Regions from separate parts of the Homo sapiens genome. Here region 1 is linked to region 2. Evidence: fine-mapped expression QTL. A gene starts in region 2. The other region holds a variant in brackets. All regions are shown on one strand. Distances are between the middles of the regions.

Region 1 (5,391 bases), 24 kb before region 2:
ATTCAAAACAGTTGAACTCATGGAGATAGTACAAGGATTGTTAGTACAGGCTGGGAAAGGTGGTAAGTGGTGGGACAGAAGTGAGGATGGTTAATAAGTGCAAAATATTTATATATAAAGAATGAGTAAGACCTAGTATTTGATAGTACAATGGGCTTACTATAGTCAATAATAATTTAATTATAAATTTAAAAATAACTAAAGGAGTATAATTGGATTGTTTATAACTCAAAGTATAAATGCTGAGGAGATAGATTCCCCATTTAGCATATTGTGATTATTATGCATTGCAAGCCTGTATCAAAATATAATATGTGTCCCATAAATATATACACCTACTATGCACCCATAAGAAAAAAAAATAAGACTTAAGTTTATGAGCTAAAGCAATAAAGCTATTCATTTCAAAATTTGAAAAACAAAATTTAAGTGACCCAAGATGTCTGCTGATTTGACATACAGATAACAAAAACTTGGCCTATAAACTAAAGCTTGTTAACAAAAGACCACGAGATCTATGGAGAAAAAAGACAGCTTTATCTTCTTAAAAAAAATCAATCTTCAGATTAGGGAGATGCAGCCTTCTGTAAAACAGAAGTGCACTCCCAAGCTGGGTGGCAGAGAGTTAGAAATTATAAAGGCAAACTGCAGTGCAAAGAACTGTAGTCAGGGCAGTGAGGAACAGTCTTGATGGGAAAACTTAAACCCCAAATCACCAGCCTCTCTTAGTTGGCTGGTTCCAGGTGGTTGGTGGGTTGGCATCAGGTGGTCTTTAATGGTCAGTTGAAGAATTCCCAGCTGCAATTGTTTTTCAGGAACTATTCCTTGACTTGGTTGCAGAAAAACAAATTTTGCAATACTTTCTAAGGACAGAGAGTGTGACTACACCCCTCACCCTGCCATGGACTCTTGGGTCTCCTTTTACTTTTGAGCCACAGGAAGTTTATCTTGTCTGTTAACTGAGAGTATAATTTGGCAAGTTGGAACTCCCTGCTGCAGGGCTGGAGGCTGTCAAACATTTCATTGACACGTACTGATTACAACCTTGTCCATCAGATAAAACAGGATATAATCAATCATCTCCCTCCAGAGACTAGGACACCTATATGCTCATTAACCCTATATACAGTGGTAACTACATATTTGCTTTATCTTTTGTATAAAGTCTCTGAACACCAATCAAAATAGAAAGAATGTCACCTTTGTTTCACTGCTCCCCTTCTCCTATTTTCTGTGTAATAGAACTGTGCCTTGTATAGCCCACTCGAGGACATATTCTCAGTTTGGGGTAAGTTTGTGTTTCCCAGGCTATTAATCCTTGAAATTGGCTTAGAATAAAATTAACTTAAAATTTCTTTAAGGTGTAATGTCTGTTATTTAACCTTTTAGTTGACACAATGTCCAATACACAATGTGAAATACACACACACACACAAACTAGAAATAAAGAATTATTTTTGACCAGTTTATATTTAGCACTACCAAATAGAATTCAAATTATTCATTTTAAGTGACTGTCATTTAGAAAACTCAATTTGATTCAGTTTTCACAAAACATAAAAGTGATAATAATGTTTGAGATTTCTGTATTTGAGAGATACAAATACAATTAAAATATGGTGCCTTTCCTTAGGAAATTAAATCTAGAGAAAAAGGACTGACCTATAAACTAACATTATCACATCTGAAGATCCTAAATTCCATGATAATGCTGGGGTGATTTTAGGAGAATTACTCAAGAAAAAAGTTTGATTAATATCACATTCTGTAAAAGTATGACAAGAGCTAGAGAATAGACAAATATAAATTTAAATATGAATAAGACATATTTTACACATATCTGTCTCTTAACAGGGTTCCTTGTCTATTTTTGCCCCTTCATTCAAAGAATATAAATAACTTTATCCAATAAACAATATACCTAAAATTTGAAAGTAGCTAAAAATACAATTCTTTCTCTTCAAAACCATAAAAGAACATGAAGGCTTTTAATTGTTTTGTAATCTAACCAGCCTAAATCAATGTCATTTAGGTCATTCATGAAGGAGCGAAGGAATCAATAGAGATGAAACAGTAATTAAAGAAATTATGAAAAAAAACCATAGGCTGAAGAAATATAAATTTTGTAATTAAAAGGACTAAGAAAAGCAAGCAAAAGTATAGAGACTAAATGTAAATGACCAGTGAACATAAGAAATAATACTAAACTGAATAGAGGAAATGATTGATTTGTGGCTCACTAAACAAGACAGAATTGGTCATGAAGAACTGAACACTGAATGTCACTGTAAATATTCAAAAGACTGGCTGTAGAAAGTTAGGAAGCTTCTTGATATAAAATATCCGAATATCTTTATGAAAATACATTCTGCTGACAATTACATTAATACATTTTCTAAGGTGATACCTGATGAAAGCTGCAAACCAAAAATAAAATTCTAAGCCCGCTTCGACCCTAACCATCTGAATGGACTCCTTCCTCTCAGCCAGGGCACTCCAGAGTTAACCTAAAAGACTGGTTCAGGCCATGATGGAAAGCAGGGGGTGGTCAGACATGCCTCATTATACCTCCTCCCTTTTGGAATGCAGGGAAAGCTGGCCAGCATTTAACATCAACACAGACCTTAAGTCTGATAAGAAATATTTACAATCTATTCTCTCTGAAGCCTGCTACCTGGAGAATTCATCTACATGATAAAACTTTGGTCGCTATAACCTCTTATTATAAACCAGACATTCCTTTCTACTGATAATAACTCTTTCAACCAATTGCCAATCAGAAAATTTTTAAATCTACCTATGTCCTGGAACCCACCACTCCCAGCTTTGAGTTGTCCCACCTTTCTAGACCAAGCCAATGTATATCTTAATTGTATTTGATTGGTGCCTCATGTCTCCCTAAAATGTATAAAACCAAGCTGTACCCTGACCACCTTGGGCACATATTCTTAGGGTCTCCTGAGGACTGTGTCATGGGCCATGGGTACTCGTATTTGGCTCAGAATACATTTCTTCAAATATTTTACAGCAGGGGGCCCCGATCTTTTTGGCACCAGAGACCAGTTTGGTGGAAGAAAATTTTTCCACAGATGGGGTGGGAGAATTATTTTCAGATGATTCAAGTGCATTCCATTTACGATGCACTTTAT[T/C]TCTATTATTGTTACATTGTAAGTAATAATGAAATAATTATACAACTCCCCATAATGTAGAATCAGTGGGAGACCTAAGCTTGTTTTCCTGCAACCAGACAGTTCCATCTGGTGGCGATGGGAGACAGTGACAGATCATCAGTCATTAGATTCTCATAAGGAGCTCACAACCAAGATCTCTTGCATGCACAGTTCACAATAGAGTTTGCACTCCTATGAGAATCTAATGCTGCTGCTGATCTGACAGGAGGTAGAGCTCAAGTGGTAATGTAAGCAAAGGGGAGTGGCTATAAATACAAATGAAACTTCATTTGCTCACTCACCACTCACCTCTTGCTGTGGTTACTAACAGGCCACGGCATTAGTCTGTGGCCAGGGTTATGGGGATCCCTGTTTTACAGATTGTCACTCTTTTTGCCAACTAAACCTTAGTCCTAAACTTGAAGAAACAGTTCTGTACTGGTGCTGTGTTTTAGAAGAACATTAACCATGACTGAGGAAGAAAAGCTACAGGTTTTAAGGACACTAAGCACTGGTTGGCTTTTTTGTGTGTGTAGCAATGGTACAGGATAAACTGGACAGTAATTACAAAAAGCCAATGCACACAGTGTATGAAGTATACAGCAATTTGTCTATCCATCACTAAGCAGACAATAAAGTAGGGATAATCAGAGTATTTCTAGACTAGTTGAAAGACCACTTTGTACCAGGGACATGAGGTCATTATAGGCAATCTGGACTAGAACAAAAACTGTAAAATTTATTCTTCTCAGACAACTGCCCTTTATATCCTCTCCTGGTCCTCTTGTAAAAAGTAACATTTTCAGTATTTGTTACCCCACCCCCCGCCACATACACACACACAATGTAACATCCGTGACAAAGACATATGGCCATGAAATTTTATATTCTATTAATAAAAGTATAAAGTTTTCTTTAACTGTGGGCTAGCTGTAGTTAACAGAGGTCCAAGAATCCAAGATCTGAATGAGTTCAGTTTTAATGACGCCATTTACTCTGTTGCTAATACTTGGACCCATGCTGATTTGACATGATCCTTGAAAAAGTCATTTAAAAGGCCAACTATCAAAGTATTAACTCATTACTCAGTAATTCTGCTTCCATCCCATCATAAGTTGCTCAAATCCCATCTGACAACAAAGATAGCAAAACTGATGTGTCCTCTTGCCCAATGTCCTTAAGCAACCTAAGGTACGATTTAAGTCATTGTGTTTATATACAGGTCTGATATGATTTGGCTCTGTCCCCACCCAAATCTCATCTCGAATTGTAACCTCCATAATCCTCACATGTTGAGAGAGGAACTTGGTGGGAGGTGACTGGATCATGGGGTGGTTTCTTCCATGCTGTTCTCATGATAATGAGGGAGTTATCAGGAGATGTGATGGTTTTATAAGGGGCTCTCCCCCTTTCACTCCTCACTCTTCTCTCTCCTGACACCATGTGAAGGTCCTTGCTTCCCCTTTGCTTTCTGCCACAACTGCATGTTTCCTGAGGCCTCCCCAGCTATGTGGAACTGTGAGTCAATTAAACCTCTTTCCTTTATAAATTACCCAGTCTCAGGTAGTATGTGTATAGCAGTGAGAATGGACTAATACAAGGTCTTTAACTTAGTTCAAATCTGTATGTGTTTAAAAGTATATTGAATATTTTTCTTAGAACTAAGAAGGATCTGAATATTTTTGGTCTTTAATTATCCAATTATTTCACTTGTCAGTTTATTTCTATATAAACTGTAATATTAAAATTATACATATTTGTCAAATTTAGTATAAATCTACATATATTTGTTTGCAAATATGTTTATGTATTTGATTATAGAATGCCGTGCTAGATAGACTTCATTGGGGATATTCTGTGTTATCATTTTAAAAATCAGAAAAAATCTGAATTCCAAAAGTCTACCTCCAAGGCTTTCAGATAGGTGATTAAGAACTGTATCCATACCAGGATTATTATGAAGTTTTCAAAACAGAATACATCTTAAGGCGAAAATATTAAATTGCAAAATTATATTGATGAGAAGCATTTCTGGATAGCTGTTAATCTTATTTATGTTCTTTGTATGTGATGAGTGAGAAGCATTTCTGGATAGCTGTTAATCTTATTTATGTTCTTTGTATGTGATGAGTCATTATCTCTTGCTGCTTTCCAGATTTTCTCTTTGCAGTTAGCTTCCAGCATTTTTCCTATGAAACGTCTGAGAGTGGATTTCTTCTGT
Region 2 (5,391 bases):
CTCCCACATATTCACAAATGGCTCACTCCCTCACTTCATTCAGTTCTCTGCTCAAAGGTCACTTCTTCAGAGAGGACTTCCTTATTCTAAAAAAAAAAAAAAAAAGCTTCCTTTATTGCTCACTTAGGCTTTTTTAATACAATCATGTCATTATTTGACATTGCACTATATTTGACAGGATATATTTATCTGTTCTTTGTCTCCCTAAACTAGAATGTCAGTTCTAACAATGCAAGCACCTTGTCTGGCTTATTTATCATTCTATCCTTATTGCTTAAAATAGTATCTGACACGAGATAGGTGCTTAATAAATATATTTTTGTTAAACAACTGTATGGATATACACTTTAAATAATAAATTATTAATCAATAATAATTATTTGATATTTGCATTCCTGCTTATTTTTTTCCTATTATGAGCAAGCATGCCATAAACATATGTATGTTATCCATGCCAGAAACATGTAAAAAACCCCTATATTTGTTTTCTAAGATTTTGGAGTCAAAAAATATGGTTATTTTTACAGTTTTTGATACATAGTGCCAAACTGCTCTCCATCAGAAAGTTATGTTTTATATCACTTCAGAAATTAATGAAAGCTACTTTCTTCTCACCTGGAAAGACAATGTGCATTTTCCCTTTTAAACACCTTAATACGTGAAAGATAATTAAGATTTACCTTTTTTCAATTAGTAAAGGACTTTTTATATGATATTATCTATTTACACTTCCTTTTTTTGTATGAATTGCCTCTACATGTCCTTTGCTCATATTTCTGATTTGCCTTTATTCATTGGTATGAACTCTTTGTACATTAAAGCTACTGTTCCATTGTTTAAACCATGTTAAAATGTCATTTTTCTGTTTGTGATTTGCCTTTCAATTGTGATTACTATATATTTTAAAATTTACTATATGGACATTTAAATTTTATACAGTCAAGAGACTCAACACCTTTGCCCAAGCTGCATCGCAATCAAATTTAAGAATGTCAATTCGTTATTTAAAAATGTTAATTATACATTTTAATGTACGCTATCAAAATATCTCATGTAACCCATAAATATATACACCTACTATACACCCATAAAAAATAAAAAGTGATAAAACCACAGAAAAAAATGTCAGTTCAATCAAAACAAAGTTGATTATCACTCTCAATCAAGGTTCGCATCTGGAAGATCGAGAACTGCACGTCAGAGTTCTCTTGGAAAAGCTCTAGGAATCCTGGGCTTCCAACGAGTTGAAGGAACATAGGATGAAACCATGGAAGTCTTCCTCAGATCTGGGGAGGGAGCCTGGCCCAAGAGCCCGTGGAGCTAATGAAAACAGGTAGTAGGGGACGCTCTACAGTAGTCCTCTCAGTTATTCAATTAGAGGTCCCAATTTTGAACGATATAACTGGGATTTCAATACCCTGAGTGATTTAGACACATCAGAAAAAAATACGACAGAAAACTATAGTTTCTTTACAGCCTTAGAAAAGGAAAACGCGTAATTTCTAACTCCAGGAGGACAGTATTCGAGTACGTGGGTTTCTTTCACCCCCGACGTGCACTTCAACTTTTAAAATGCTTGCTCTGGTGGTCCACAGTACTTTCGCGTTCACTGGGCGGTACCATATCTCTCAATAGATTTGATCCAAAACCCCAAGTGCGGGAGACAAAGCTAGGTGGAACGTTATTAACCCTCCACAACTCCAACCTCTACTAGCTTCCTCGGAGCAGGCGAGGCACCAGGCCCGTGAGAAAACACTGAGATCTGGGGCGTAGCTGTGACATGGGGTATTTCTGGCCGGGATCTCACCGGGTAGGCTCCACCCGCGGGTTATCGGCTCCCTCCAAGAAGCATCTTTGAACTCCTCCCATGCAGGCCCTATTCCTACACCAGTTCTCTTTCTGGAATCTCTTTGGTACTGTGTTTCATTAATCCCACAACCATATTCCCACCTATTCCCTAACGACAACAAACTTTTAAGGTCCAGGTTACCGCCGCGTCTCCCTAGCAACCGTGCCCTTTAATGGTTGCCGGAAGAGGCTATAATCACGTGCTCCGAAGACTTCCGGGTTTCCAACGTGACTTCCGGTTGTCAGAATTTACCCCTGACGCGGCGGCGGCCGACGGGAAGCTGTGTGTGCTTAGGTCGTGGTGGCCCCGGTGGTGGTGGGCTCCGGGCGGGCTCGCGTCATCCTGCCCCCGCTGCGATGCATCCGCGGCGCCCGGACGGATTTGATGGCTTGGGCTACCGGGGTGGTGCCCGGGACGAGCAGGGCTTTGGCGGCGCCTTCCCTGCAAGGTCCTTCAGCACCGGGTCGGACCTGGGCCACTGGGTGACGACTCCCCCAGATATCCCCGGCAGCCGCAACCTGCACTGGGGCGAGAAGAGCCCGCCCTACGGCGTGCCCACCACCTCCACCCCGTACGAAGGCCCCACGGAGGAACCCTTTTCCAGTGGCGGCGGCGGCAGTGTGCAGGGGCAGAGCAGTGGTGAGAAGCATGGGGACCGACACAGGGATGAGGGGTTACTGGGGCCGCGGCTTGCGGCCTGCAGACCCCGGAAGCGGCGCAGAGGATCCCGCCTCCTATTCCTTCTCATCCTATCGCGCGCCACACCCTTTGCCCTCCTTTGGTCCTCTGCCCCTGAGGCTGGCCTCCTCTTCCTCACAAACGAATTCTCCTGGATCAACTCCAAAAAAGACATCTGCCTTAGCTATGGGGTGCATAGCAGGAATTTTTAGAGGTTTTGGTGTCTCAACTGATGGTCTGAGTTAAAAAGGAGATTGGATTATTAACTGTTCCCTGATTCACTTTGGCAGCTCTATTTTCTTGATTTAATTAATTAATTAATGTGTTTACTTGTAGTTTTGTGTTCTGAAAAGAGAAGCCTTTCAGCATAAGCATACTTGGGTTCAAACTTGGTTGTGCCACTCGTAATCTGAACAACTTAACCTCTGTGAGCCCTCAGTTTTCTCATCTTTAAGATGTGTAGAAGAATCCTGTATGGGACACATAGGCTAAAAAAAAAAAGTTTCCTTCCTTTTCCTTTTTGAACACAGGAGTTTTGTCTGCTTTTCAGATCCCCAGTCTAGAAAGTTTCCTTCCTATAATTTTCCTTTCTGCTTTCCTTCTGCTGACCTAAAAACTACATATAAAAGTTAGAAACACTGATACAATTTCAAGATAGGACTTCGGAATCATGACATAATTATTCTCCATGGGATGTCAGAAAAGCTGCAACACTGCATGATGTAGATATTTTCAACATCCTTTTTTATTCATAAAATGTGAATAATGGCTACCTCTTTCTATTCTTCTGGAATTGTTAGAATAATAGATTAATGGTATTAATATTAAATTTATTGTAGAAATCAGCTTTATTCTTATTTCCTCGACTTTGACTTGGAAGTACAATAATATTTAACTAAGAAGAACAGACTAACGAATGTCTAGTGAGTAAATGAGGATGTGAAGAAAGATAGATGACTTACCTAGCTAATTGTCATACAATTAGCTTTTTGACTCTTCCCGGTTTAAAGTTATGCTTTGGTGGTTACAATGAGGAGGAGTTCCTTGACACAAGCAGGGGTTTATTTTGCAGCCTTAACAGGTGGGTGAATGTTAATTTTGCAACAAAGATAGACACCTAAGAGACTTACACAGTAAACAAGATTAAACCTTCCTAACACCTTCCAGAAAATGCTAGTAGCATTTTCTGTTGCTATTTGGGGATGATCTATACATACAAAATGGGTAAGGCCGGGCGTGGTGGCTCACGCCTGTAATCCTAGCACTTTGGGAGGCCAAGGCGGGCGGATCACGAGGTCAGGAGATCGAGACCATCCTGGCTAACACGATGAAACCCCGTCTCCACTAAAAAATAGAAAAAATTAGCCGGGCGTGGTGGCGGATGCCTGTAGTCCCAGCTACTCGGGAGGCTGAGGCAGGAGAATGGCGTGAACCCGGGAGGCGGAGCTTGCAGTGAGCCGAGATCGCGTCACTGCACTCCAGCCTGGGCGACAGAGCGAGACTCCGTCTCAAAACAAACAAAAAAAGGTAAAATCTAAGGTAAAAGTACCGTAGGTGGGTAAAAGAAGCTTTCTATTTAGCTTATACATTTTTCTAGGGTAAACTGCGTAATTTCCCAGGAACATGCTTAGGTGGCCTTGTTCTGATTGAAAGGGAATAGTGAGGGCAGTTGCTTCACTTGAAAGAGAAGAGGAGAGAAAGAATTGTAACTTGTGAATATTGTATTATAGTTAGAATTTGATGTCTGGTCCCCTGGGGTTGTAATAGTTCACCACTATGACTTTGAGTTTAGTCAAGAAGAAAGGCTTTTCTCTTTTGACATATGCATAGGAATGTTCCCAGCTGTGAACTTTTCCAGTAACATAACAGACATACCATCTGTAGTAGCATTTAGGTATCCAGTAACCTACTCCAATTAATTAAACAGCTAGCCTCAAACTATTTAAAACTTGAAGAGATGGGGGAGAGCTGTATTTACCCATTTTGGTTATCCCTAAGTACCCTTTCAAGTTAATAATTTAGAGGTGCTTTACTTGTAGTTATTGGTTTAATAAAGTGCTCTCCGTCAGTAACAGTGAATAACTAGTTTTACAGCATAAGAGGTAAAGTCGCAGGTGGAATATCAGCTGCGGCCAACCATGGAAAATTTTTTATTTGATTGGAATCAGAAGCTGAAAACTGGTAGCCCTTAGGTTCTGTCCGGATATTTGTTTCATTAGGCCAAGACAATGTGTTAACAGTTTTTGAAATAGTTGTCCAGGACTTTAAAATTGGAAGCTTTTATATAAAATGAGAATATCTTTTTTTGAAAAAATTACAACTTCAAAACCCTGGGCCCACACTCTAATGTGGCAACAATGAATTGGAGTGAAAGCGTAATTGTGCTTTAAACACTCTACACCTTGCAATTTGCCACAGACCCCAGCAGAGTCCTTCATTCATTTAAATTATTTACCTGGCCCCTATCAGAATTTGACTTTGAGGTTTAAATGAACAGCAGGTTAATAAAATAAATTTTTTAAAATTGTTTTGAGACTAAACCTAAATTGTCAGTAATTGGTTATCAGTAATCTTATTTTTTTATTTCTATTTTTTTTTACTTTAGAACAGCTGAATAGATTTGCTGGATTTGGTATTGGACTTGCAAGGTAATGTTTTATCTAAAGACGTTTACAGCTTTTATTTATTGAATTTAGAGTTTTTCTTTAATTTACAATATTAAATGATTATTATTGCTTCCTTTAGGTTGTTTCTTTGAAGCAGCAGCTTAAATTTTGAATAATATTTTGCAGAAAAAAAATGACCATTATTTAAAATATATAATTTGATAGTTTTTCCAGTAAGGATAGACTAGTCATCCAATT

Which allele goes with the higher level. Alleles are on the strand shown, and positions count from the first base shown. SD is a standard deviation of normalised expression in the study named.
In carriers of allele T in region 1, the expression in tibial artery of the gene that starts at base 2,093 in region 2 tends to be higher than with C alone (small effect, 0.20 SD a copy in GTEx).

Evidence for each region. PIP is the estimated chance that this variant, and not a neighbour inherited with it, causes the effect. A credible set is the group of variants that fine-mapping cannot tell apart.
Region 1: its variant is the best candidate, but not a certain one, in a credible set for the expression of SLC25A46 in tibial artery (GTEx, PIP 0.90).

The regions. Positions count from the first base shown.
Region 1 is chr5:110,713,194-110,718,584 of GRCh38, forward strand. The region is part of intron 1 of TMEM232 (transmembrane protein 232); the gene reads right to left. Among named protein-coding and RNA genes, the nearest start is that of TMEM232, 11 kb to the right of the region's middle. The variant T/C (reference allele first, on the strand shown) is at 3,150.
Region 2 is chr5:110,736,915-110,742,305 of GRCh38, forward strand. SLC25A46 (solute carrier family 25 member 46) reads left to right here and starts at 2,093. Exons shown (of 8, transcript NM_138773.4): 1 at 2,093-2,488; 2 at 5,133-5,175. The coding sequence starts at 2,206. It also overlaps a transcript of TMEM232 not described here. RefSeq lists enhancers at 1,676-1,725, 1,976-2,105, 2,116-2,185, 3,430-3,931, 3,932-4,431.